Linked DNA regions of Homo sapiens: region 1 is linked to region 2. Evidence: fine-mapped expression QTL. Tissue or cell type: whole blood. Region 2 holds a variant in brackets; the other region holds the start of a gene. All regions are shown on one strand. Distances are from middle to middle.

What was found.
Region 1: it holds the start of TMEM43, and the variant in region 2 is fine-mapped to the expression of TMEM43 in whole blood (TOPMed, PIP above 0.99).

Annotation. Positions count from the first base shown.
Region 1 is chr3:14,120,066-14,131,604 of GRCh38, forward strand. It overlaps TMEM43 (transmembrane protein 43), which reads left to right and starts at 4,987. Exons shown (of 12, transcript NM_024334.3): 1 at 4,987-5,140; 2 at 9,347-9,496; 3 at 10,757-10,891; 4 at 11,515-11,539. The coding sequence starts at 5,129. CHCHD4 (coiled-coil-helix-coiled-coil-helix domain containing 4) reads right to left here and starts at 4,805. Exons shown (of 3, transcript NM_001098502.2): 1 at 4,590-4,805. The coding sequence starts at 4,611. RefSeq lists enhancers at 1,488-2,222, 2,223-2,958, 3,562-3,661, 4,430-5,164, 5,032-5,231 and 2 more and silencers at 4,222-4,271, 4,282-4,841.
Region 2 is chr3:14,141,904-14,152,843 of GRCh38, forward strand. TMEM43 (transmembrane protein 43) reads left to right here. Exons shown (of 12, transcript NM_024334.3): 12 at 1-1,777. XPC (XPC complex subunit, DNA damage recognition and repair factor) reads right to left here. Exons shown (of 16, transcript NM_004628.5): 11 at 10,432-10,513; 12 at 6,911-7,045; 13 at 6,659-6,828; 14 at 6,005-6,098; 15 at 5,387-5,476; 16 at 3,244-4,256. The coding sequence ends at 4,038. It overlaps XPC-AS1 (XPC antisense RNA 1), which reads left to right and starts at 7,659. Exons shown (of 2, transcript XR_001740603.2): 1 at 7,659-7,699; 2 at 7,939-10,940. RefSeq lists enhancers at 1,844-2,531, 2,877-2,986, 6,650-7,334, 8,952-9,452 and a silencer at 1,926-2,220. The variant T/C (reference allele first, on the strand shown) is at 3,420.

The DNA.
Region 1 (11,539 bases), 22 kb before region 2:
CACAAGGAGGAGGTCATCCAGAATCAACTCAGTCCCCACCCCAGAACCTTGGTCAGAGTGGGGAACTGGAGGCCCGAGGGGTTACTCTGAGTGCAGGACTTCAGGGTGGGGCTGAGAACAGAACTGAGTGAGCAGTCAGATACAAAGACACCTTCCACCCCCAGCTGTTTAGTTTTACTCTCGGTAGAGCCACCCCAACCCGTCTTTCTCTCACATCTCCAACAGCAAATTGGAATGGCTCGATCTTCAAATACATCCAGAAAGAGCTGCATCCCTCACCTCTTCGACCCCATCTCCCACCATCACTCCCTGCACTCCAGCCACGCTGGCCTCTGCTTTTACTTGAATGTGCTGAGCACATGCCTACCTCTGGCCTTTGCACAGGGTGTTCTGTCCTCCAGGAGCACCTTCCCTTCCCTCAGGTACCCTCACAGCGATTTCTCCCTGCTTTCACCTCCTGCTCAGATGCCACCGTCCCTGACCACTGCCCATCTCCCTTATCCCGCTTTATCTTTCTCCAAAGTGCTTTTCGTCACCCAACATACTATGTATGTTTACCACTTGATGCCCCCACTGGAATGTCAGCTCCTCAGAGGCAGTGATTTTTGTCTATTCTGTTCATTGCAGTATCCTGAGAGCCCAGAATAGTACCAAGGACAAAGTGGGTGTTCAATATTTGTTGAAAAAAATGAATGGAGAAACAACTCTGGATTAGGGCTTGAAGACCCAAGTGTAAGAATTAAAGAGGAGAGAAACACGAAGGGTGGCTTTTCAGTCAACAGGGACAGGTTTATTTTAAACAAACCTGAGAGGGGCTGCTGGCTGAGTTAGGTCAGAGCCACACTCTCTTACAGACTAAGAGTTTTTAAGGATTCAGGGTGGGAGAGCTTATCAGTGGCTTGGACTGCTTCTGTGTCTCTTTGTTGTGCTTATCTGGGAGGCAGACTGGTGTGTCTGTTTCCATACATCTTTCTGCAGCTGCAGGCATATCCCCCCAAGACTGCTTTTAGCTTCCCTATCTTAGTACACCTGAAGGGAAAGGAATGTGCTTATTAAGGCCCACAGTTTTACTGGGGCCCATTGTATGAGGGTGAAGTTTGGCAGTCACCCAAGAGACTTTCCCCCCACCTCCCTCTGTGTCCCAGCTGTCTTGTCTGTGTTTTACTGTCTGCTCTTTCTGGCTGCTTGTAGTTAGAAGAGAAGTGACTTCCTTGAAATGCATGAGGCTAGAAAGGGAGCTGGAACTTAATGTGCCAGTGTTTGTCCGAGATGACGCTACTCCTGCTCTGTCACCCAGTCCCAGCAGAAAGCAGGAAGACAGAATGGTTATCACCATTAAGTGAGTGAGACCAAAAAATCCCTTGGATGAGTAGTTTGATTTCCCCCATGAAAGGGGAGGATCTTTATACACCAGAATCTCTCAGCTCATCCACCCCAGAAGGAATGCCCCTGTGTCCTGCAGAGGAAGCAGTTTATTGTCTCCCATGGATGCTGACTCCCCAGGGTCATGTTTGAGAATGGCAACCTGCACTAAGGACTTATTTTCTTTCGTTTTTGGCTAAGTTGATTCAATACACCTGTGATACAATTCCAACCACTACTTTCTGAAGCTCAACCCAAGAAAGAGATCTAAAGCCAGAGGGAGTGGTGCCTGTGGTGTATTTTGAGTGAGGTAAGGGGTTTCTAAGAGTTTGATAAATCTGACTGCTAAGGACTTTCATGTTTAGAATCTAACCCCTTTGAAAGATACAACTCCCCCATACAGAATCAAGTGTCTGTGAAGAATACACAAATGGCTTTCAGACAGAGTGTTAAGAAGAATGCAAGTGTTAGAAGTTTAGCTCAACAAACCTTCCTCAGCTCCAGCTCTGTGGTAGTACCTGGTGGTCACAGATGAATACGACACAGGCATCCAGTGGAGAAGACGGAAGGGGAGGGATCCTACCTTTGTCCCTGACAAAGAGCTTCAGGGAGGGAAGGAGGGGAATAGACATTCCAGAAGGAACCATCCTGGGCAAAGCCTGGAGGGCAAAAGGAGGGTTTTAAGTAGTGTTCGCTCACACGTGTTTAGGATTGCAAAAGGTTTTCTTAAGAAAGTGGCATTTAAAAGGATGTCTGAAGCCTCAGGAAGCCTTCTCAGACCCCATAGAGCCTTTCACTAAACGATCATAGCATGCTGGGCTTTTCCTTCATGTCACCTATGACAGTCTGTAATCATGCATTTGTCTGGTGATGTTTTAATGGCAATCTGTTCCACCATGCCAGGAGGGCAGAGAATGTGTCACCTTGCTCACCACTATATGCCCAATGGCTGGCACATCACGTGTGCTCTATAATTGTTGACTGAACAGGAGTTGGCAGGCTCTGCATTAGAAAGAGGAAACTAAGAAAGAAACACTATGGTGCTGACACAGGAGAAGTGTGGCTAGCCCAAGGCCCAGGTGCGAGGCTGAGAGCCCTTGAATGCCAAACCAACGAGTTTAACCTGAAGGCTGGGTAGCAGGTGGACCCCTGAAATAAACTTGTACAGGCAAGTGATTCACTCAGAACAGAGGGCAGGTAAATGCATGATTCAATAAAGATGTGGGCACCCATTGTACACCAAGCCCTGTGCTAGATGCTGGGGATTCCACAGCCCATCTGATGCTCTCAGCTTAGTGCGAGAAGACAGGCAGGAAGTAAGATGGCAAAAAATAAAAAAGGTCATTTCAGACAGTTCAGGATGTGAAAGACACAAAGGGTCAGGAGGTGATATTGGAGCTAAATGTTAAAGGATGAGGAGTCAGCCACGGAAGAGCTGAAGGCAGGATATACCAAACCAAGGGAATAGCCAAGAGGCTAGAGGCTGGGCAGCAAAAGGGTGGGAAGAGACCAGGCTGGAAAGGCAGACAGGGCCAGATCACATAAGCTCTGATACAGTAAGCAGTTTGGGATCATTTTTTAAAAATCCTATGGGAAGCATAAAGGATCAGTGGGGGGCGGAGGGGGGGAAGTTAGGGACTTCTTACGGGGACAGTGGTATGCACAAGATAAATACTAAGGAAGGCCTATAAGTGAGTGCTTTCAATTCTCACTCCTCTCCGAACTAAGAGAGATCTTTGAAGCAGGAAAAGATAGGGCTCCATGTTTTGGAGGCAGATGGACCTAGCCTCCCCTTTCCAGAGAAAACTGCCTCCTGTAAATCCTCAAAGAGGAGGGTCTTGTTTATCAGCACAGCCTCATTATACCCAAAGGCTCAAAAATTATTTGCTAAATGAAGTAAATTAGAGAAAGACTCGAAATTAAAAACAAGAGTGGTGAGGGCAGAGGACTTTTGCTTATGGCACACATTAAGTAGTAATCAGCGGAAATATAATAGTACTCATTAAAGAGTGAGTCTTATGGCTTTACGACCCAGAGGAGGAGAGGTTCTAGAAGCAGACAGCGCCACCAGGGAAAAGGCTCAGAATTTTAGGCTGAGCTAGTCTCCTAACTGGATGTGTAACTACAGGTAGGCCACCTCCTTCTCTGGGCTTCAGATTGCTTGAATTAACTGACGGAGCTGGAGTATTCACCAAAGAATTTCTGGGGGACTTCCAACTCTCTCTGTAGTTTTATAACCATCCATCCCCCTTCTCTGGCGCAGAGAAGGTGCTTCATGAGTATTTGCCGTATCAATGAAGCCCAACATCTCATTTTACAACACTGGATACCAGGGCCTGGAGGGGTTAGGTGGGAGCTCAGGGCCAAGGAGCCAGTTTGTGGCAGTGTGTGGGGAGGCCCTCCGACCTGTGGCTCGGGTACTTCTGAGCTCTTGGGTAGAGTAACATCAAGGAAGCAGTAGGTGGTCGGAGCTCAACTTTGGGGTGGGAGGTAGGCAGGGTTCTCCCTGCAATCCACTGGGCACTAGATTGGATAAGGCTCTTCTGGGGTCACAATGCCCAGGCTCAAACCCCAGCTCCACGATTTGCTGGCTGAGTGGCTTTAGCCATGTCTCCTGTGTCTAACTTTACTCTTCAGTAAAATGTGACCAACAACAGAGCCTGACTTACAAAGGTCGCAGCGAGATCTGTGAGACAAGCCAGGCAAGTTTCCTTGAACAGTGCCTGACAGGTAGCAGGGGGCTCAAAAACATTCCCGTTAGTGGAACTCCTAGCACTCCAGCACAGCACACGCTACCCCGAGTGGCAACTTTTCGGGACGCGCCTTTTAAAGGCGCGTGCAAAATGTAAACACGTGGGGTATGGCAGGAGCGGTAGTGATAATTAACCACCATACATTCCCAGTTTCGAGCCACACGCAACGTGCTCGGCACTTCCCGTGCCCCAACCGGACCTAGTTTACGACTTCCTACGCACAGGCCCCTCTGAGGTCAGGGTTCGGGCTTCACTGTGACCTTGGACCAGCCCCGTTCCCCCCAGAGCTTCGGTTTTCTCATCCGCAAAACAGGAGTAGCGACCCCCCAGCCGGCCCGCCTCCGAGTGTCCCAGGGTGGGCACCTGGGCCGCGCCTCAGGTGGCCCGCGCCCGGCGTGGTCGCGGGGCGCCGGGGCCCGCGTGTCTCCCGCAGGCCCTCGTAGGCCGGTCTCCGTGGCAGCCCGCCCTCCCTACCTTCCTGCCGGCAATAGGACATGGCTGCAGCCCGTCCCTGAGACCTTGCAGAAGCGGCGGTGGCGGCAGCTGCACCTTTACGCCGTGACCTCCCTCTCCTCTGGCAGGGCGGGCTCCTCCGAAGCCCGCGCGGACCCGCCCCCTCCCAGGCCTGCCCGCCGCGCGCCTGCCTCGGCGCCCTCGCAACCGCGGCCAGGCCAACCTCAGCCGGAAACTACATTTCCCAGCAGGTCGCGCGCTCCTCGACAGCTCTCCAGGCAGTAGAAACTACATTTCCCCGAAAGCTTTGCAGTGCGCAGGCGCATCAATGAGGTACTGCAATGTCCCGGACCGTATAGTTTCCAGGACGTCTCGCCGCGCGCATGCGCAGAAACACTGGGCACAGGGGGAGGTAACTGCAGTAAGTCCCGCTTGGCCCTGGAGTCCACGCGGATTTTCGAAGCTGGGGCTGGCAAGAGGCCGCTGGACACCACGCTCCAGTCGTCAGCCCACTTCCTAGCTGAACAGCGCGAGGCGGCGGCAGCGAGCCGGGTCCCACCATGGCCGCGAATGTGAGTATCCCCGGGCCAGCCGGGCCACACCCAGGCTTCCCCGTCGCCCTGGGGCTTTTCCCCGGGGTCCTCTAGGTCCATTTCGCCGCCTGGAGCTCCTCCGTGCGGCTAGGCCCGCATCTCCCTCTGCTCGCCGTGTCTGTGCCTTCGCCAGCTCATCCCTCTGCTCATCTCGCGGCCTGTCCAGGCTTCTTTTGTCCGTGTTCCTTGGCTCGCCTCGTCCTCGGCGTTCGTGCGGAGGCGGACTCGGAGGTGTTGCTCCCGTACTGGGATCTGCTTGTACGCCTCTCCGCGGCCCCTCCTTGCATTCCCAGTTCCCTCCTGTACCTTGGGGCCCTGAAACTTGCGCATTATGAGAGCTGGACGCGACCTCAGAGAGGGCGCCAGTCCCTTGGGAGGGAGGAAGGCGATCCAGCCCAAGTGGAGCTGTCCAGCAATGGACAGACAGGGCTGTCCAGGCGGGCAGAGAGCTCTCCGCCCTAGGGAGTCTCTGTAAACCGAGTCTGTGATGCTCCAAAAAGCTTAGGCTGGGCTGGGAGCGAAGGAGTTGGGGGAGAGGGAGCATTTCTCTACTGTCGGGGCCCCTCCTCCCCCTAGCAAGGATTTGGTTGGAGGAGGCCTGGCTGAGGGCTGTTCCCTCAAGGCCTCTTCTCCCTGCAACTAGCCTTTCTCGGGAAACTATTTAAGCCCAACATTCATTCAACAAGCAGCGCCTCCTACCAGGGCGCTGGGTGTGGGAGAAGCTGGTGACTCACCTCTCCCCTCCTCTGTGAAAGTGCTTCTAGGGCCCGCTTAGGAGCCCAGCCAGCCCCAGACACACCCTCCCTCCTGCTTTGGTAGAGTGTCCTAGCAGCTCTCCCCTTGCCTGTCACACCCTATTTCCAGACACCGCCTCTGTCCCCAAGCGTCCTCTCTGCCTCCCACACCCCTTGAGAGGCCAGGGTGTGCATCACCCACAGCCCTAGTACACTTTGTCTCGGGTTAGTATCATCCACACTCCCAGGACATTTCGGGCCCACAGGAGGGTTAGAAGCCTTGAATGTTGTACCTAGAAAAGCCTCAGAGGTATTCGGAGAGACTCAGGCTCGGCCAGGCGAGAGGGCAGTCAGGAGACCAGCCTGTCTGTAGTATGTGGACTCTTTGTCTGCTCCCATCACTACCACCACCATATTTTACAGATGGGGAACTTCCCTAGCAGGGGAAGGCACTTGCCCAAGCTCTCGTGGCCGGCTTGGCATGCTGTGACACGGAAATATGCTGAAAAGGGCAGGCTTTGGAGTTAGGGAGACCTGGGGGCAATCCAGATTCTTCCACCCAGTAGCTGTGTGGCTTTCATCTCTCCAGGTTTATGTAGCCTCATGGATCAGTTACTGTGATATTTAAGGGAGACTGCTTAGCACAGTGCCTGATGTGTGGTAGGTACTTAATACTTGAAAACAAGCCTGTCCTTGCAGGGTAGCACAAATGGTCCCAGTGGATAGAGATCATCTTGGGTACATTGAGACCTGACCCCTCACCAAGGAATATACATGCATTTGAGTATTCTCTGCTGCCAAGCATTTTTTGATTCATCCAGTAGCTGAGTACACATTTACAGCAGCCACTAGGCTGGGTGAGGAAGAAGATAGCGGGATGGAGCAGGGAGGCAACAAAATTCTCAATCAGTACAGCAGCAGCAGTACCTGTGGTGAAGGTACTATTCCCCTCTCCACTTTATAAGTGAGTAAACAGAATCAGAGAGGTAGAGCAATTTACCCAGGCTTACACAGCAAGCGATTGGTGAACCTAGGCATCAAATCCAGTTCTGTCCATTTCCAGGGCCTATGTGTCAGCCTCTGTTCCCACCACTCATTGCTCATTTCTTCTAAGTCCTGAGTGCTAGGACTGGGAGGGGATGTGTCACTGGGGATGTCCGTCTGTGTGTGCGTGTGTGTGTGTGTTTATATAATGTGTGTATACATGTAATACATACTATATGTATATATAAATATGTGTGGATATATAGATCCTTTATGATCCTCCATGTTTACTGGGAATTTTGGTTCAGAATGTGGGCTGGGTTTGTCATGTCACTGCCCACCTCACCCCTCCCCTAGCCTGAGGGGCACCCTCCTGTACCTCTCTTCCTTCCCTCCAAGGCCGTCTTTGAGCCCCTTATCTTGATGCTGGCTGAGGGGAGGCCCAAGAGGAAGACACGCCTTATTTTCCTATTGCTGCCTGCAGCTGGCTCCCAACATTCAGCTCACATTGTAGCCCAAGAGATGGGGAGCACAGACTGGAATGAGTAATGGGAGAGTAGCCTCCAGTCTGCCCGGATTTGAATCCTAACTCTTCCTCTTAGAAGCTGTGTGATCTGGGAAGATGACGTAACCCTGAGCCCGATTTTCTTATCGGTGAAATGGGGTCGTTATGACATCCCGCTCTTTGGGCTTGCCTGTGGGCTGGCCTGTGATAGACCCGGTGTGTTTGCCATTGTCATCATTGTGATGGTCACCTGCCCCTATGTGGTGATTCACTCACCTAATGTTTCCAAATGGCATGGAAAGTCAAGACGACTTCTGGATTCATGGACATCTGGTCACTGGAGGCCTTGGCTGGTGGTACTCAAAGACAATCAGAATGCGACATCAGCTTTGTTCAAGCAGAGATTCTGAGTCAAATCACTCCTCTGGCCCCCAATACCAGGATGGGGCCTGTCTTAGCTGGGCCCCACTTTACATCTTTGTGACTTTTGTCAGCTCACCCCCAGCCTGGTGCCAGCCCAGTATCAGTTGTAGGGAAATCTGGTAACATTTCTACTAGCTAACACGTGTCCAGTGCTTACCACGCCCTAGGCCCTGAGCTACCCAATAACTGTGTTCTTTGGTTCTCACCACAACCCTATGCACAGAGGAAATGGAAGGCACAAAGTGGTGAAGTTGCTTGCCCAAGACCCCGTAGCTGGTATGTGGCAGAGCATAAATGCAAACCCAGTTCTTCTGGCTCCAGAATCCTGCCCTAGACGATGACACTTTTGATCAGCAGTGGATGCACCCCAAATCATGCCTCTGTTATTGACCAAAGCCTGATCCACTCACCCTTGAGTTTGAGGCCCACTGTGAACCTGCCCAGAAATGCCTACCTCCAAGCCCTTTCTTCCTCCACTGCTCCCACCCAGCCAAAGCAGACAGGCAGCTGCTCCCCCAGAACCACTTCCTACTTCCTCATCACTGCTGATACGGTTCTCCCTTTAGGGATGCTCTTCCCCTAAGATCTGCCTCTAAGATTCCACTCAAGGGAGCCTCCTTGATACCCCAGGTGGAAGGGGTCACTCCTTGAGCACCAAGTCCACCCCCATCACAGGACCCTCTGTGTGACCTTCTAGTATTGTTTATGGTTGTGACCTCACTGCCCTAAGACTGTCTACTTCTGACCCCACAAGGGCTAGCACTGCCCTCAGAAAGCTCAGCCACTGTTTGCTGAATTTAATTAAAAATACATCTCTAATAACCTCTTTGTAAAATAGCTTGGCAGTTTCATAAAAAGTTAAACGTACATCTTCTTCACGAGCCAGCAGTTGTACTCCTAGGTATATTCCTACGGGAAATGAAAGCACATGTCTGCATAAAGGTTCATGTATGAATATTCACAGCAGCATTATTCATAACAGCCAAAACCTGGAAGCTGTCAAGATACCCATCCACTGACGAATGATTCAGCACACTGTGGTATAGTCATAAATGGAATACTACTCAGCCATGAAAAGGAACAAATTCCTGATAAACACCACAACATGAATGAATTGCAAAAGCAGTGCTCTGAGTCCAAGAAGCTGGGCAGAAAGGAGTTGGTGCCCTGATTCCATTTTTCTCAAGTTGTAGAAGAAACAAACTAATCTACGGTAGGAGAAATTCAAATTCAGATTCTCCCCATCCCCACCAGTTACCTCTGGTTGGTGGAGAGGGGGAGAATTGGCAGGAAAGGGGCACAAAGAAACTTTTTGGGGTGATGGAAATATTTTGTACCTTGCTTTAGATGTTGGTCAGATGGAATATACGTTTGTGGAAACCTGCCAAACTGTACATTGAATATCTGTGTGTTTTTACCACATACAGTTAAAACTAAAAAAAAAAAAAAAAAAAAAAAAAAATTGAGTATAAATAAATAGCAAATTTAATTTATTTTTAAAAACTAGTTTTCATTCTGTTACTGTTTCTTTTTCTTCAGTATTCCAGTACCAGTACCCGGAGAGAACATGTCAAAGTTAAAACCAGCTCCCAGCCAGGCTTCCTGGAACGGCTGAGCGAGACCTCGGGTGGGATGTTTGTGGGGCTCATGGCCTTCCTGCTCTCCTTCTACCTAATTTTCACCAATGAGGTAAAATGTCTGGGGTCTTCCTGTGCAGAGTGAGAGTCCCCACCATGTCAGAGAGCAAAGGCGATGAACCCGGAGGCTGGATTTGGTAATCAAGGGCCTAGATTTTAAAAAGAGAAAGGAGGATACTGAGTTAATCACAGTTCTTTCCATTGTGATCCATCCCACAGCTGATGTGAGCAGGAAGGGGAGTAGATCAGTTCACACACCTGAATATCCAGGGGTTAGCACCTGCCTCAGGCGTAGTTGGATCCAGGTGTTCATGCTGGGTCACCAGGAATCTCCATTTCTTCATCTTTTGCCTGTTTTTCTCTATTATGGTGTTTTTCTTGGGCAGGCACTTCATCTGTGATGGCAAATGTGGCCCCAGCAACTGGCCTACATCCAACCACTTAGCCCAGGGAAGAGAAAAACCATCTGTTTCTCTTCCTTTCTTTCTTTTCCTTTCTTTCCCCTCCCTCCCTCCCTCCCTTCCTTTGTTCCTTTCTTCCTTCCTTCCTTTGTCTCTCTCTTTCTCTCTTTCTTGTTTGTTTGTTTCTTTCTTTCTCTCCCTCTCTCTTTCTTTTTCTCCTTTTTTTTAATAGGGCCTCATGATGCAACAGTATATTTCTAAATCAATTTAGCAGCAGTTACAGGGCCATCTCTCAGTGTCCTGGCTTGGCTCTCCGTCCTCTGAATCAGTCTCCGTGTCCAGGGCGCACTCACATGTTCTGACTGGCAAGGTCTGGGTCCCATAATCTGACCAGGGTTCAGATAGACTCAGGTAAACCACATGGGCTGAGTAGGAGAGAGGAGAGCCAGGCATGGAGGCTCAAGCCTGTAACCCCAGCACTTTGGGAGGCCAAGGAGGCAGGATCGCTTGAGGTCAGAAGTTCGAAAGCAGCCTGGGCAACATAGCAAGACCCCATTTCTACAAAAAACTTAAACATAAAAATAAAATTAAAAAAAAGAAGGCAGAGAAAAATGGGGAGAAAGGGACAGGCAGGCAGAAACATCAGCTGTTCCCACCACTGGGGCAGTGCTAAGATTGGTGGGGGCTAGTGGGAACCAATGGGGCAGTAGGAAGAAGTCTCCCTGGGAAAGCAGGAATCTGGGTTCCAGTCCTTACTCTCCACTTGCTAGACCTCAGTTTTCCAACTGTACGGTGGGGAGATGGGTCTCAGCGCTCCCGGAGGCCCCATCCTACCCTAATACTTTGCAACAAGCACAGTCATGCTGAGCCACCCCTGAGCTGTTGAAATCCCCACTCCCCTTTGCTCCCAGGGCCGCGCATTGAAGACGGCAACCTCATTGGCTGAGGGGCTCTCGCTTGTGGTGTCTCCCGACAGCATCCACAGTGTGGCTCCGGAGAATGAAGGAAGGCTGGTGCACATCATTGGCGCCTTACGGACATCCAAGGTAGGTTTGGCAGGGGATGCTGACCTGCCAGTGGCTCGGGGCTCATCCTGGATGTTGTCTGGCTGAGGATTTGAAAGCATGGGCCTTGGAGATGGTCACACATGGGAGTGATTCCCGACTTTACCACTCAGCAGCTGTGTGGACTTGTCTATCCTGAGTCTCAGTGTCTTCGTGTATAAAATGGGGACGGTAATGGTTACAAGCTTGTGGCCAGCCTTGAGGATTTGGTGAGATTAGGTAACTAACGCCTTGGTACAGTGGCTGGCACTCAGGGAGGTGCTCTCATGACTCTGATGACCATGTGTGTCCAGTGCAAGGCCACAAAACTACCCTGGGCACCAGAGCTTTCCTGTTATTTGAACACCCTGTACGCTGTTGGCACCATGCCATTGGGCCATGCAGCCCAGGCCTGTACTGTGAGGGTCACAGTCACAGGCACTGTGTGTAAAGAACCTGGGACAGGGAGTGTCCTCGATTCTCCCCTGCAAAGCAGTGTAGGGCTCTCCACCCTTGTCCCCTTCTCTATTTCTTCCTCTTCCAGTCCAGCTTCCCCTGAGCCAGGCTTTCTGGGCTGACGTGAATGTTATCCTTTATTTTTTTGGTTTCTTTGATTCTGTTTGAAGCTTTTGTCTGATCCAAACTATGGGG
Region 2 (10,940 bases):
CTGCACTCCCTCTCCTCTTCAGGGGCCAGACTTGGCAGCATGTGCACCAGGTTGGTGTTCACCAGCTCATGTCTTCCCCACATCTCTTCTTGCCAGTAAGCAGCTTTGGTGGGCAGCAGCAGCTCATGAATGGCAAGCTGACAGCTTCTCCTGCTGTTTCCTTCCTCTCTTGGACTGAGTGGGTACGGCCAGCCACTCAGCCCATTGGCAGCTGACAACGCAGACACGCTCTACGGAGGCCTGCTGATAAAGGGCTCAGCCTTGCCGTGTGCTGCTTCTCATCACTGCACACAAGTGCCATGCTTTGCCACCACCACCAAGCACATCTGTGATCCTGAAGGGCGGCCGTTAGTCATTACTGCTGAGTCCTGGGTCACCAGCAGACACACTGGGCATGGACCCCTCAAAGCAGGCACACCCAAAACACAAGTCTGTGGCTAGAACCTGATGTGGTGTTTAAAAGAGAAGAAACACTGAAGATGTCCTGAGGAGAAAAGCTGGACATATACTGGGCTTCACACTTATCTTATGGCTTGGCAGAATCTTTGTAGTGTGTGGGATCTCTGAAGGCCCTATTTAAGTTTTTCTTCGTTACTTTGCTGCTTCATGTGTACTTTCCTACCCCAAGAGGAAGTTTTCTGAAATAAGATTTAAAAACAAAACAAAAAAAACACTTAATATTTCAGACTGTTACAGGAAACACCCTTTAGTCTGTCAGTTGAATTCAGAGCACTGAAAGGTGTTAAATTGGGGTATGTGGTTTGATTGATAAAAAGTTACCTCTCAGTATTTTGTGTCACTGAGAAGCTTTACAATGGATGCTTTTGAAACAAGTATCAGCAAAAGGATTTGTTTTCACTCTGGGAGGAGAGGGTGGAGAAAGCACTTGCTTTCATCCTCTGGCATCGGAAACTCCCCTATGCACTTGAAGATGGTTTAAAAGATTAAAGAAACGATTAAGAGAAAAGGTTGGAAGCTTTATACTAAATGGGCTCCTTCATGGTGACGCCCCGTCAACCACAATCAAGAACTGAGGCCTGAGGCTGGTTGTACAATGCCCACGCCTGCCTGGCTGCTTTCACCTGGGAGTGCTTTCGATGTGGGCACCTGGGCTTCCTAGGGCTGCTTCTGAGTGGTTCTTTCACGTGTTGTGTCCATAGCTTTAGTCTTCCTAAATAAGATCCACCCACACCTAAGTCACAGAATTTCTAAGTTCCCCAACTACTCTCACACCCTTTTAAAGATAAAGTATGTTGTAACCAGGATGTCTTAAATGATTCTTTGTGTACCTTTTCTGTCATATTCAGAAACCGTTTTGTGCCTGCTGGGAGTAATTCCTTTAGCAATTAAGTATTTGGTAGCTGAATAAGGGGTCAGAACTTCTGAAACCAGAGATCTGTAATCATCTCTATTGGCCTGGGGTGCCTGTGCTATAAATGAGTTTCTTCACATGAAAAACACAGCCAGCCCAAGATGACTTATCTGGGTTTAGGATTCAATAGTATTCACTAACTGCTTATTACATGAGCAATTTCATCAAATCTCCAAACTCTTAAAGGATGCTTTCGGAAAACACGCTGTATACCTAGATGATGACTAAATGCAAAATCCTTGGGCTTTGGTTTTTTTCTAGTAAGGATTTTAAATAACTGCCGACTTCAAAAGTGTTCTTAAAACGAAAGATAATGTTAAGAAAAATTTGAAAGCTTTGGAAAACCAAATTTGTAATATCATTGTATTTTTTATTAAAAGTTTTGTAATAAATTTCTAAATTATCTTCTGGTGTGGGACTTTAACAAACATCCTATTTTTAGTTTCAGATTTTTTTTTTTTGGCATTCTTTCCAAAATGTCTGTAAAGAATTCAGCCATAGGATTTATTGAGAACTGAATTTTGTGGAAATCTGAGCTTTCAGTGCTTAAAATAAGTTAATTTTTTTTTAAGGGCAACTCAGTATCTAGCACTCAGAAGTCCACACTGAAGCCCACTTTGTTTTGGCTTGATTTAAAGTGAATGACTCAGGCTTCATGCATCTTCAGAATGTGCTAGAAAAAGTGGAAGGGGCAGCAGTGTGCTCCACTGCCAGAGGCATCCTGAGTTGACACGGGAGACCTGAGTTCTGAGCCAAAGATTGCTACATACTGGCTGTGATGTTGGGTAAATCAACGATTTGAGTCTGTTCCCTCATCAGTACAATGGGAATAACACTTGTCCACCTCACAAAGTTGTTGTGAGGGCCAAATGAGACAAAGCCCATAGAATGCCTGACACATGAGGCATTAATTTTTCATTCATTTTGCTTCCTGTTCTGAAAGGCGGCTGCTAACTGCCCACTCTGATGCTAGCAGTTTGCTTTATTTTTTACAAGCACGTGAGTGAGAACTTTCCCAAACCTACTCTTCTGTTTCTCAGAACCTACTGTTTCATTTAAATAATGCCTCCTTGTAGCTGACATATGCCTGAAGAAGTTATTTCTGCAGAGACATGGCAATGCCATCATCTCAAAACCCCAGAAAGACAAGCGTGGTGGTGCATACCCATGGTCCCAGCTACTCAGGAGGCTGAGAGGATTGCTTGAGGCTGCAGTCAGCTGGGATCACACCACTAGCTGGGATCACACCACTGCACCCCAGCCTGGGCAAGAGTGGAACCCTCCCTGTCTCAAAAAATAATTTAAAAAAAAAAATAACAGAAAACAAGTTGCCTCTATAGGAGGGCCGAGCTCTGGTGAGGAAGTGTGAGACCAGTTTCCATAGCAACCCCAGTCTGTTTCTCAACAAGAGGTTCCAGCCAGCCTCTTGCCACATATGAGTCATAACTCAAGTGTTTTGTTTGTTTCCCTTGGATAAAAGTGACTCCGATTTTTAATGGCTCCTCTCAAAGATTAACATCTCTTCACTAAATACAGAAGAATTCCATATGTAATGAATTTCCAGCCTCCATGAAAACAAAATGGACTCTTTCATGCTGTCTCAACATATGAATACATTGCTCTGTCACCTGGGTGTTATTACCGACTTAAATCTGAAAGAAGCTGGGCACGGCAGTGGTGTGTGGGTGCCTGCAGTCCTGAGGAGCTGGGACTGTTTCCCGAACAATGCCTTTCCACCACACACGGTGGTTGTGAGGGCCAGCTGAGGCAAAGCCCTCAGGAAGACCACTCAAGCCCAGGAGTCCAGCCTGCGCAAGACAGTAAGACCCCTTAAAAAAAAAAAAATCTGAAAGAAAATATAGAGCCAAATCTTTAGATAAATGCTTTATTATTTTCTCAAAATGTTATAAAAGTCATTTCTCCTTAGTACAGAGAGCTTTATACATTTTATCTAGTAATGAATACAATCTAGTTTAACACTCATCTATTTTACTAACATTTCCTTAATTTTCAATTCGTATTTTTCCTTTTCTTTCCTGATTTTAGC[T/C]TTTTTTAGGCTTCTGTCACCACAAAATGTTACTTGGAAAACTAGATCCCAGCAGATGACCTGTACTTCTCTGCTCTCTCCCCTACTGCAAAGAGGCAGTGAGGGCAGCATTAGTAAGCCTGACTCAGGGGAAGGTAAGTGGCCTGCAGAGAAATGGTCCTAGGTCCGCAACCGAGGCGAGTGAACTTGTCGGACAGATGAAGACTCTAACTGGAAGAAACGATCAGCGCATTCACGGATGCACCACCATCCAGAAATCTCCCGGTGGCTTCCATACAAAAACTGATGTTTCTAAAGATGGAAAGAACAGGTCTAGGAGGCAGAAGAGTATCTCCTAGCAAAGTGTTCTGTAGCTCAAAGGGTGAGTGGGCTTTGGTAGCAAAAAGCTTTGAAGGCTTCACCCTGGGTGAATCTGACAAGGGCTGGAGCCAGACGGGACCTGCAGCACCTCCTCAGCTTGGCCTCGTCTCCCCTGACCCCGCCTCCGTGCATGCTGCCTCAGTTTGCCTTCTCAGCAGAGAAGCCCCCACCACCAGGGGCTGGGCATGCCCAGGGCAGGTGTGGGGCCTGTAGTGGGGCAGCAGCAACTGGTGGGTGCCCCTCTAGTGGGCGCTCAGCTCACAGCTGCTCAAATGGGAACAGGTGGGAAGCTGCTGCTTTCTTTTCCCTTTTGGTCTTCTTGGGCCCACCCTTCAGCTTCTGCTTTTCTTCATCTTCTCGGTTTTGAGGCCAGGAGGCAGCCAGTATCCTGGCCGCTTCTGCTTGAGAGCTGGTCCCCTCCTCTTCATCAGAAGAGAGTCCACCTCCTGCATCTGTGTGGGGAGCTGCTGCCTCACTCTGGACAGGTGGCAGTGGTGGGAGGACACAGGCGAGGGTTAGTAATCAGATACCAGGAAGCCCCATGAAGAGGCAGCAAGTTCCCAGCCTGCCCTAAGCTGTGTAACTCTGGGAGGACAAGGGCATGGGACAGGGCAGGGAGAGAGCCCAGACCCTTCTTACTGAGCCGTCCCAGCCTGGGGTGCATCCAAGCAGACACTGGAGCACCTGCTACGAGCTGAGTGCAGGGGAACACAAGGATGATGGCTGGGCAGGAAGCTGCCCTCTAGGAGCACACTGCCTCATCTGGGGATGCCTGTGATTCGTGCCTTGCATTTGCTACCTCATTTCTGGACCAAAGCACATGATGTCTTGAACGGGCAAGATGCACAGTTCAGCCCTCGGAGCCCTAAGATCTGAGGCGGCACTCCCTGCCAGCTGGGATGGCTAGGGAGGGTTTGGATGGAGAAGGCGGCAAGGAGCTGGTCAGAACATAAAGTCAGATGAAGGGCTTTTCTCCACCAGAGGGACTGGAATGAGGAGCGTGACAAAAAAATGTTGAAAGGCAAACAGGCAGCACAGAGGGTTGGAGAGAGGGAACAAAACATGCCAGAGCAGTTTCTGCTGTGTCTGACACAGCACTGACTATACCATGTAACTGGGCCTAGGGTCCATCTGCCCCAGGGAGGGGCCCCCTTGAGGGCTGCATGTCAAATTCACACCTGTGTCCAAGCCTGGCCTGGCACATGGCAGGTGCTGTGAGAGAGGTACTGAGCGGGCCACTGCAGGCCTGCAGCATGGTCACAGGCACTGGGAACACTGGAAGGCGGAAGGGTGCACCAAATGCAGGACACTTGGCCCTCCCTATGTGTTCAGCGCCAAATCAGACCCATGGCATTGCTCATGTGGACAGTAGAAACGGGGACACTGGGACAGGGCTTGGGGCAGAAGAGCCAGCTGAGGCCTCACTCCAGGGACACCTTTCCCAACAAGGTAAAAACAAGCGGCCTTAGAGACAGAAGACTGAGGTGTCCTAACACAAAGCTATCCCTGACTTGAGGCTGGGGCAGAATCTGGGCCAGGCCTTTCTGAGCTGCATCTCCAAGAAACTGACCCTGAGCTTGTCTTCTCTGCAAAGAACCTGCACTGACCTTGGGCCCGTAGCGACGCTTCAGCCTCTCCCTGATGAGCAGACCTTTGGCCAGCAACTTCCAGTTCCCTAGAGCCCGCTTCTCCTTTTTCTGCAGGCAAAAATGAAGTGGGAGAAAAGTGTTAAGCACTGACATTTTCAGGAAAAATATTAAGATGGAAACTGTGAATGTAAAGACAGATATATACACCACTTTAGAATATAGCCTCTCCTTCACACCAAGTCTCACTTCCAAAAAATTGATCTGATTTACAAAGTGATATACTATACCTGAAAGCCACAAAAACAGATAACTTTTTAATCGTTACTGACTCCAAAATCTTTAGTGGGTGAGGTCTTCCAGAACCTGGACACAGGCAATTCAAGACAGAGGCAGGTGTGGGCAGCAGGGGCAGTAGACCCCAGAGCCCGGACCCAGGCTCCTCAGGGACAGTGATAGTCTGCGGGGTGGGCAGGAGCCTGCTGTATTCAGTGCTCGCTCCCTCGGGTGCCTGCCATGATGTCAGAGAGGGCTGGGAAGAGCCTGGGAGCACACGGAGGCGGCCTGGGGAAGGAAGAGGCCACCCGCTGAGTGTTGCTTCCCGCTTCTGCTGTCCCTCAGTCCTGCATATGCGCTTACCTCCTTCTCCTTCCTTTCAATGACTGCCTGCTCATTTTCCCAGGCAGTCAGGAGCACGTCTTTGAATTCCTCGCAGACGATGTATCCATCAGTCCTGTGGGGACACAACGCGATGTCAACCCTCGAACCTGCTGCCTGCTCTGCCTCTCCTCCCTCCCCAGTTTGTGGAAGACAGTGGGCCACATCTGAGCACTAGGGGTCCTGAAGGATGTCGCGGGTCAGCCAGTGTCCCACATCCTCCGTGCAGAAGGCAGGCCTGTGGAAGCTGGCACTGCCTCTTCCTCCCCAGATTCTGCCGAAGAAAGCTGGGGTGAAAGCCCCTATCCAGCCTCACCCATCATGGAACAGAGCTCACTAACCAGGCAGCTGCCGGGGAAAGATGCTGACTGTTTTTTGCTCACTAGCCTGTGAGTCCCTAAACCTGGGAAGAACGTTTTAATCCAGCATTACGATGCCAGTTTCATTGGCTCCGTTCCCTCTGGAGGGAAGCCAGAATTGGTAAAGCACTGACTTTGCAAATCCAGTGTAACATCCTGAAAATTGGAGCCACCAGGCCTCAACTCCCAGCAGCCCCATGCCAGCTTTCCATCCCCATCTCTGGAGCCACCCCTCCCCATCCCTGTGTTTAGCCTCCATCGAAGGCCCCTCACGCACACGGGATGGGAGTAGCCGCCATGGAAATCAAAGCCAGTGATGGCCTGGACACAGTCGATGTCCAGCTTGCGGGCCACGCGGTGTAGATTGGGCAGGTTCAGCTGGACACAGCCAATAGGCATCATGCTGGGCAGGAAGAGGTACACATTCCCAAACTCGTTCCGGGGCACCTGTGTCGGGTGAGCAAGTCAGCATTTGGCCAGCAGGGGAACAAGGCGGCCTGGTCCTGAGCCCTTCTGATGCTGCCCTTACCTTCCCGTCCACGGCCACTGGGGGCTGATACTCCTCTGTCTGCCAGTAGCCAAACAGGCCCAGGTCATTTTCTTCCCGCAGCTGGGGCTCAGCAAGTCGGGCTTTCCGAGCACGGTTAGAAAAGCCTTTCACCATCTGCACCAGAGGACACGGCCACCGTTTACAACAAAGGCATCCAGTTCCTCAGCACCGGGCCAGGCACCATGCTCAGTGCCGCATGCCTGGTACCTGGTGAACCCTCAGAACACACCTACCAGCTGGGGTGCTTTTTCTCCCTTTTTTTTTTTTGAGACAGAGTCTCGCTCTGTCGCCCAGGCTGGAGTACAGTGGTGCAATCTTGGCTCGCTGCAACCTCTGCCTCCTGGGTTTAAGCAATTCTCCTGCCTCAGCCTCCTGAGTAGCTGGGATTACAGGTGCCTGCCACCACGCCCGGCTAATTTTTGTATTTTTAGTAGAGACGGGGGTTTCACCATGTTGGCCAGGCTGGTCTCGAACTCCTGACCTCAGGTGATGCACTCGCCTCAACCTCCCAAAGGGCTGGGATTACAGGCGTGAGCCACCGTGCCCGGCTGCTCCCCTTTTCTTACTACAAGCACTAGCTAACATTTATGGAACATTCTCTGTCCCAGACACTATTCTCGGTGTTTTTTGTTTTTTTATCCCCCTGAGACGGAGTCTCACTCTGTTGCCCAGGCTGGAGTGCCCTGGTGTGATCTCAGCTCACTACAACCTCCACCTCCCGGATTCAAGTGATTCTCGTGCCTGTCTCCTGAGTAGCTGGGACTACAGGTACCCGCCACCATGCCCAGCTAATTTTTATATTTTTGGTAGAGATGGGGTGTCACCATATTGGCCTGGCTGGTCTCAAACTTCTGACCTCAAATGATCCACCTGCCTTGGCCTCCGAAAGTGCTGGAATTACAGGCATGAGCCACTGCGCCCAGCCTATCTTCAGTGCTTTATATGTTATTATTTAATTTTTTCAACAAACCCACAAGGTAGGTCTTATTATTGTTTCCATTTTACAGATGAACACCACAGACGGGGTAAATGATTTGCCTAAAGTCACACAGCTCGTAAGGGCCAGAGCCCACACTTTCATCCACTAGCCTATATTCTGTGCTGTCATCACTGATAGCAGTGACTGAGACTGAGAGACAAAGTCACTTAAGAGCTGATGGCTGGTAAGTGACAAGAACCAGGATTTACAATTCAGGTAACTGTCCATCAGTAGAGCCTGTGTCTCAACATATAACCTATGTCTGCTCACACGCCCTAGAAAGCACTGACAGTTCAGGACTCCCAGTGTGCTCCCCAACAGCGTGCAGTGGCCAAGGCCAAGATCTTCCCTGGGGAGTGAAGTGGTGAGAGGGGCGCAGGACAGGCAAGGACAGAGTCACGTAACTCTTAGAGGAGTCAGGCATGGGCGTGCGGCTGAGGGCTGGCCCCTGGGCCTCAGCATACAGACTTCCTCTAGTGCAGGGGCCCACAAGCTTGTTCTGTAAAGGGTCATGCGTGGCCTCCATCACATATTCTTTATTCTTCTCATTCTTATAACCCTTTAAAAATGTGAAAAGCCATTCCCCAGGTTGGGGGTGGCCTGCGAGCTCTCATGTCCATTCCTGCCATGATCTCTGGGCGCACCCTCTCTGTCACCACTTCAGGGACAGAGGGACTCTGAGTTCTGACAACCGTCCCTTTCTGAGAAGCCATTCACCCAGCACACTGTTCAGTAAACTTCCACTGGGATCTCCTGGAGACCAGGCCATGACCCAGTCATGAAGGAGGGATGGAGCGAGGACAGTCTTTGCTCTTAGGAGCTCAGGCTCCTGCAGGGGAAGAGACAGAGCTACGACTCAGCGTGATGAGTACAGGGTGGAACAGGAGCTCAGAGGCAAGCCATTGCCCAGCCCTGAGGACAGTGGAGGCAAGAAAGGCTGCTCAAAACAGGTCCCGCCTGAGCAGAGGCTTAAAGGGGCAAGGGGTTGCCCAAGAGAACAGGGCTGGACCCCACAGGGCACAGAGGTGGGAGAACACTGGGACCTGGGGCCTAAGTCCTCTGGAATGCAGAGGCAGTGAGCACCAGAACATCACTGTGCACCATGGGGAGGGTGCGGGACTCAGACTAAAGGCGCTGGCCAAGGTGGGACAAGGATGGCCAAGATGCACAGAAAGAGCCTAGTGACTGACAGGGGAATGGATTCAGGCTGGGAAGGAGGCTGTGGCTGTTGCCCAAGCAAAAGATACTGAGGCAGGAGCTGGGGTGGTGGGGATCAGAACAAGGGGTGAATTTGAGAGATTTGGGATTCCAGAACTGTGCTACCATGACAGCCACCAGTCACGTGTGGCCACTGCACACCTGAAACGTGGCTGGTCTGAACTAAGGTACAGAAAGTCAAATACACAGAAGATTAGAGAGACTTAGGAACAAAATGGATTTAAATATCTCATCAACACTTTAAAATATTTCTTACTGCTGAAATAGTATTTTAGATATATCTGGATATATTTTAATGTTAAAATTCCACCTGTTTTTGGTTTTTAATGTAGCTACTAAAAAATTTAAATGTGTGGCTCACGTTACATTTCAACTGAACACTGCTATGCTGGTTCCAGCACAAAAGACAGGTGAGATGGTGCAGAGAAAATCCTCAGCAACCCTGCAGGCCCAGGCAGGGGGCATCGCCCACTCCAGCCTGCTGCTGGCAGTGACTGTGACCAGCGCCTGCAGCCTTTCCCACTAAGCGGAGGCCCCTCCACTCCCCACTCAGCTTCCCGGAGTCTTGCAACCCCCAAGGACTCCTGGGGTCTGATGAGAAGTAAATGGTCTCTGTGATCAGCCACTGTACACTTCCGGTCGTACGGAGCTGTGTGTCCTGTGAATAGTCTCTGTGGGACCTCGCTCGGTTCGTGTTCCTCAAGAGCAACCAGCCTAACAGTGCCGCAGCACAGTGTGAAAGGAGCACTGGCTTTAAGGCAGAGCCTGGGATTCTCACCTGGGCTCTGCTCTGCCATTTTACTAACTGTGGGGACTTGGACAAGTCACTTGCCCTGAGCTTCAGTTTTCTCATCTGTAAAATGGGCATCATAATGCCAATTCCTATGGCTTTTGAGGCAACAGAGATCACATACATGCAAAATGCTCAGTGAACTGCCAAACAGAAGGGCAATCTGACTGGAGAACGTGCTGCTATAAAGCAGGGCTCTGACCTCCCAGGACCCAGTAACTCAATTCCAACCTGTAGAACCTTTGAATTCACAACAGGAGTCTGAGGCCTACTTTTTGGCCTAGATTTCTTTTGTGTTTTGGAAGATCCATTTCTTACAAATGTCTTATTAATAAGACAATTTAAATGTTTCTCTCCTCCTTGAATCCTGCTCAAGCCGGGAAAGTGAGACATTTCTGATCAGGATCCTGGGCAGGACTGGGAGGCTCATCATCACTTCTCTGCCCCCAGCTCTCCCGCTCAGCTACAGGCCTGTGTCACCACTCCCCACAGGGACCCCCCAGCTCCAGTTACCTTGTAGGGTACTTCTCCAAGCCTCACCACTCTTGCTTTCTTCAGCCACGTGTCCCTGGAATGCAGAGTGTGCACACAATCCCTGTGGAACCAACACAGGACACAAAGGTAACTCAGTCCACAGCCCCACTGCGGGAATGCGGGACAGTGGAGAGCGCAGCCCTGCAGGCTCCCTCCTCAGGTTCAGCCACCCTGGAGCAGGCCGAGCTCCTAGGGGGCCCAGAGAAGCTGTGCTAGGCAAACAGCCTTGAACGTGGACTGCCTGTCTTTTGGGGGATGTGTCCACTTACAAACCCTAATCTGCAGCCTTTGTGCCTTGCCTCCACCACTCCTCCCCTTCATAGGTTTTCTTCTCCTCTGCTGTCCAGAGCCTGTGAGAGCTCCAGCTGCAGACTATCAGGATGGGGTAAAGGCCGCTGTGCGCAGGCACACTCACGTTTACTACCACCACCAAGCGAACACCTGCTGAGGCTCTGATCTGCTGTTAACACCATGTGGGGGAGGGAAGT